2 separate regions of the Homo sapiens genome follow, and region 2 is linked to region 1. The links come from fine-mapping of genetic effects on gene expression. A gene starts in region 1. The other region holds a variant in brackets. All regions are shown on one strand. Distances are between the middles of the regions.

Region 1 (2,915 bases):
CTTTCTCTTTGTTTTTCCTCTTTTTCTTTTTCTCTCCCTGTTGCCGCTGTCTCCGCGTCCTTCCCCTCCGTTGCCGCCCAGGGCGCCGAGCCAGACTATGGGTCCCAGGTGGGGGCTGAGCGGCGGCAGCAGCGCGGGCGGTCCAGTCACGGTGCGCACTGCAGCGGGGATGGAGGGGCTCAGTTGGCTGGTGGTTTTCTCTTGACATGGCTCCTGCCCGTGCTACCAGCAGCGCCCCCGCCGCCGCCGCCTCTTCCGCCGCCGCCACCGCTCCGCCCGCAGGCTGCGGCTAGAGGGCCCAAACCCCGCCCTAGAGTCGGTCCGTGAGTCCCGGGCTCCGCGGGGACAGGGAGGGGATTTCCCCGTCACCCACCCCGCCCTAGCTGCCTCAATTCCACCCCCTGCCCCTCGGGAAACAACTAACGACCCCACCCTAAACAATCCAAACTCTGGAAACATGGTCTGTTCAACGTGAGAGAGAGCTAATCCGGGAACTTAATTTTTTGGGGGGAGGGTGGGTGGGCTTACTTTAGAAGTAATATTAACACAATTATTTTCTTTTTTTCCCCCACTGAACCTTCCCATTTACCCTCTCCCGCCCACTCCACCCGGGCGGGAATTGTTTCCACGATGAAATGAGTGAAAACCTGAGTGATCCTGTGTCTCCCGTGGTGCGAGTGAGTCGCTGCCGCTGAAGGCAAGGGGTGGGGGTGGGACCTGCGGGGGTGGAAGGCAGGTGGTCTCCGGGCACCGCCTGGGATTTGGGAGAAGAACCCGCCACCTTTGCCTCGGCAATGCTCACAAGAAGATAAATCGCACTCCCCACCATTTTGAACGGGGGCAGATCCACAGGGAAGTCTCCCTTGGGGAATGTAGGACTAGTTGCAGGCTGGGGGTGTTGGGAACCCGGGCATTAATCAGGTCTAACCACAGAGCCGGAATAATTAATACCGTATTATATACCCCTTTTCCTTCTGCCGTCATGATTCTCCTTGGCAGCAGCGTTAGCAGCCGCCTGAGGGTGAAAATGTGGGTGATGGGGAAGTTGGTAATGACTCCGCTGTTTTTTCTCATGGCTCCTTTGGGCCACAGCTGCCCGCCCCCGGTATACACTGTAGTTGATTGCAGGGAAACCCTGTACCTCTCCCTTTCCTTCTCTACCGATTTTGCACTTTTCTCTATGCTCACCACCAAGTGTAATCAATAACAAGCACTGACAATACATAGCAATAGTGAAATCTGAAATAACTAAGAATTAGGTACTACAGCCATGGAGCTGGCTGGGTAAAATCTAATTGGATATTTCAGTTTCATTCACCTACCCTGTTTTGGTGTTTGGTTTTGGTTTTGGTTTTGGTGAGTTTTTTTTTTTTTTTTTTTTGGAAAGCAAGGATCACACTTCCCCCTCCCTGTTCCTTAATCCCTTTTCTAAAAAGGGGGGAAAATCCGGATGGATTTTAGGGATTGGTCTGGTGTCAGCTGTGTTTTATTGCACACCTAAATCCTGATTATAGGCTTTTCATTTCTCCGCAAAGCCTTTATTTTGGCAGTTAAGCCAAATGTGTTTTCCAGAAAGTTAGTTATTTTCTCCTCTTTCTTTCCTTTCTTTCCTCCCTTTTTCCCGTCTGACCCCAAACGTTATTGTCCAAACATGACTGGACAGCAGCTTTTGTTTCTTGACCCTGTAATATGACAGTCTGCTAATATTGACAGAAGGTGCAGTTTTTGGGTTATAGTCGTGATTTTCGCTAATCAATCATATTAGCAGGAAAAAAAATGACTTGTTTCTGTTGTACTTGAGTCTTAAGAAAAAGTGCCCATAGTTTAGTGACAATTTCCAAAGGCTTTAGTACCACCTGTATTTCAAAATGGGGGACCCAAACTCCCGGAAGAAACAAGCTCTGAACAGACTACGTGCTCAGCTTAGAAAGAAAAAAGAATCTCTAGCTGACCAGTTTGACTTCAAGATGTATATTGCCTTTGTATTCAAGGAGAAGGTAATTTAAAGTTCTTAATGGTGAATTAGCACAAGTAATTTTTGTAAGTGTATATTATTTGTTACTCTTAAATTATTATGAATATTAGGTTAAAGAGTGGTTGAAAAAAAGTCTGCTTTGTATGCTCTGTTTTTTCACCCTTAGGGGTGATTCTGTGAATTGAGCAGTTGCAGCATGCGAAAAGACCCTTGAGCGTTCTTTGGTTTGGAAATAAATTTGAGTCTGAAGCTTAGTAGTAGTATACACTGAGTTGACATGGGGTGGGCAAGATTACAAAATTTTATATGGAGTTAACATGGGAAACCTTATGATGGAATTTAAAGATTATCTAATGTAGAGTATAAATAAGATGGTTGAAAGTGTGAAATTGTAATCAGACTGTTTATATGCTAAAGTTTATCCTGTTTCTTAAACTGCGTAATGTAGGTAACCTTTTCTCTTACATTTAATGAAGTAGAATACACCTTTTAGGAGCAATTAAATACTGAAATGGTTAATTTGTGTTTAGAAGTGTGATTTTCTTTTTTACTTAGAGTTCATTTTGCCTTGTATAGAAGTACAGTTTTTAAAAACTCAAAATGACCTAGAGGAAGTTTCATTTTTAGGGGCGGTGGAGGTCTTAATCAGAATTAGTTCCGCAGTTAAATAGCAAACAGTAAGTTGTGAGTAGTCAAGGATGGGATGATAAGAGCAGTATTTTTTGCAACTTAAAATGAACATTTTCTTAAATTATCAGCAAGGCTTATTTGACCAAAGATGAGGTTATGAATGTAAGGAAGTGCTACTTGGATTTTGGTGCTTAAATTGTTAGCTAATTTCAGATCAGAAATACAATCTTAGTGTGGTATCTATTAAGTATCTGGAAGTTTTCCAGGTTTCCCCCTACTGTTTAACTCTTATTATTTTTGTTGCTGAGAC
Region 2 (2,915 bases), 31 kb before region 1:
TTCACACTGCTATAAAGACATACCTGAGACTGGGTAATTTATAAAGAAAAGACATTGAATTGACTCATAGTTTCATATGGCTGCGGAGGCCTTGGGAAACTTACAATCATGATGGAAGGGGAAGCAGGCACGTCTTACATGGTGGCAGGAGAGAGCTAAGAGTGAAGGGGGAAGAGATCCTTACAAAACCATCGGATCTCATGAGAACTCACTCACTATCATGAGAACAGCCTGGGGGAACCTCCCCCATGATCCAATTACCTCCTTCCCTTGACATGTGGGGATTACAGGTCCCTCCCTTGACCTGTGGGGATTACAATTTGAGATGAAATTTGGGTGGGGACACAGAGTCAAACCAGATCAGAGACCAACAAGAATGAGCTTGTTACACAAATTAATGTGCAAAATAAGCTGAAAAAAACAAAGGTTGGCTTTACAGGAACCTAGCAGCCCATGCTGTATCAGCTGTATAGAATATAAACCCTCCCAAGAGTCCAAGAAACATTAACACTGGTGACATCGGTATAAAAGTGCCAAACCTGCCCTCTTTTAGATAAAAAATGTAAAAGACTATTTTCAGTAAAATCCAGGGGAAAAGGTCATCCAAGTTTACCTTGTAGTTGTTTACCAAAACTAAAGGAGAGTCTTAACTTTTGCTCTTGGATTTAAGTCAAGGTACTGTACAGAAGTTATATAAAATCGGTATGTGAAGTTCAATGTACCTTTTCTTGTTCAGTGATTTTTAAAGAAATCAGATAGTTCCAGTGTGATTTGTTTTCTTTTCTAAACTTCTATGCTCACCAAAGTCATTCCCTATATATTGGCTACTATGATATTTTGAAAAGTGTTTGTGATATTTCGTTATGTATCACCCAAAACATTGGTATTTTGTATGGATTACAAGTGCAGCATTCCTTAAGTCTTTCTGCTATCTGTGACAATTGTCACTTAAAGAACTAAGTGTATATTGTGTGAAAATATTATGACTTATTTATTTATTTATTTGAGACAGAGTCTCACTCTGTCACCCAGGCTGGAGTGCCATGGCGCGATCTCAGCTCACTGCAACCACCACCTCCTGGGTTCAAGAGAGTCTCATGCCTCAGCCTCCCAAATAGCTGGGATTACAGGCATGCATCATCACGTCCAGCTAATTTTTGTATTTTTAGTAGAGACAGGGTTGGCCAGGCTGGTCTCGAACTCCTGACCTCAAGTGATCTGCCTACCTGGACCTCCTAAATTGCTAGGATTACAGGCATGAGCCACCACACCTGGCCATGACCTTTTTTCTTAGTTTAAATAAACTGCAATACAAAAATTCAAGTGAAACAATTTTTATAGGTCTATAACACAATATTATCTGCAGTCCATTAGATTAGGTATGGCTGTGAACATTTAATCATAACTTTTCAGTTGCAATTTTATGTTCACATTATATTTGGATACCTCTCAATATTTTTAAAAGAAAATTTTCAACCATATATGGCTGGTCCACAGATTTGTCACATCCCCTTTGTTTTGAAAATTTTCAAATGTATATGAAAATGGAAAGAATATTATTATGAAAGCCTGTATACTCTCTGCCTAGATTCAACAACTGTCATCATCTTGACAAATTTATTTAACGCTCTGTATATCGTTTTTTAAAAACTGAACCATTTGAAAGTCATTATGACACTTGCTTCTTCTAGTTCCTCTCCCTCTTCCTGAGTTTTTAGTTTTGTTTTCCGACTTCCTATACATGGGTTCCTTTT[T/A]CTAGCAACCTTACATAGCCTTCTTAAAAAGGAGAGAAGTTCTCTTAACTTTATGTTCATCTCCAGCTACCACCATCTGTCTCTTTCTTTCTCACAGCCCACTTTCTCAAAGCAGAGTCCACACTGCTGTTTCTACTTCCTCCCTCTCAGTGGGCCTCACTGGACTGTGGTGTGCCATCCACACAACTTCACCTTGGCACCATCTGGAGCCTCACGACTGGGAAACTCAACAGAGGCCAGGCTCCTCTCTTTGGCATATTTCATACTGTTGAGCTCCATCTTGAAATCCGTTCCTCCTGCCAGGGCATCGTTCACTTCTGACTCACCTGCTTTTCCAGCTGTCCCTGCTCGGGACCCTTCGTCAACTCTCCTTTCTACTTGCCTCTTGAATCTGGGCATTCTAAATGGCCCCATCTCCATCCTTAGTCTCAAATCAAGAGCTTAACCATTTTGTCCCTTATTACCGGAATTTCACGTATCTGTAAGAAGATGGAGAGAAACTCTTTATGTGAGAGAACCCATGAGGATGTCTGCTTCATGAACTGCTTCATTTTGATCCTCCAGTTATAGTTCTTCCGGCTTTTGCAGTTTTAATAAAACCACACCCAGAGGCTATTCAGAAGAAGGAATGCAGGTAAAAGGCAAAAATGATCTTGCTTGTTAGTGACCTAGAGACAAGATTTGATGGAGAAAGAAGCAGAATATTGTCTTTTTTTTTTTTTTTTTTTTTTTTGAGACGGAGTCTCGTTCTGTCGCCAGGCTGGAGTGCAGTGGTGCGATCTTGGCTCACTGCAACCTCCAACTCCCGGCTTCAAGCAATTCTTCTGCCTCAGCCTCCTGAGTAGCTGGGATTACAGGCACGTGCCACCATGCCCGGCTAAGTTTTGTATTTTTAGTAGAGACGGGGTTTCACCATGTTGGCCAGGGTGGTCTCCATCTCTTGACCTCGTGATTCGCCCACCTCGGCCTCCCAAAGTGCTGAGATTACAGGCATGAGCCACTACACCCAGCCTGTTGTCTTTCTTTATTATGAAGTTGTAGGATGTTATTTATCCATGATAAAGTCCTATCTCCCCCATTTCTACAGCTAATTTAAAGTTGACTATTAGAAACCCTATTCACAGGTCAAATACAGACAACACACATTGATTTCTAGCCATA

What was found. PIP is the estimated chance that this variant, and not a neighbour inherited with it, causes the effect.
Region 2: its variant is fine-mapped to the expression of C6orf62 in whole blood (INTERVAL, PIP 0.94).

What each region holds. Positions count from the first base shown.
Region 1 is chr6:24,717,622-24,720,536 of GRCh38, reverse strand. C6orf62 (chromosome 6 open reading frame 62) reads left to right here and starts at 1,383. Exons shown (of 5, transcript NM_030939.5): 1 at 1,383-1,997. The coding sequence starts at 1,869. RefSeq lists a silencer at 170-339 and an enhancer at 1-702.
Region 2 is chr6:24,748,314-24,751,228 of GRCh38, reverse strand. It overlaps LINC02828 (long intergenic non-protein coding RNA 2828), which reads right to left. Exons shown (of 3, transcript NR_183315.1): 2 at 2,081-2,233. It also overlaps the pseudogene AP3S1P1. Among named protein-coding and RNA genes, the nearest start is that of LINC02828, 7.5 kb to the right of the region's middle. The variant T/A (reference allele first, on the strand shown) is at 1,755.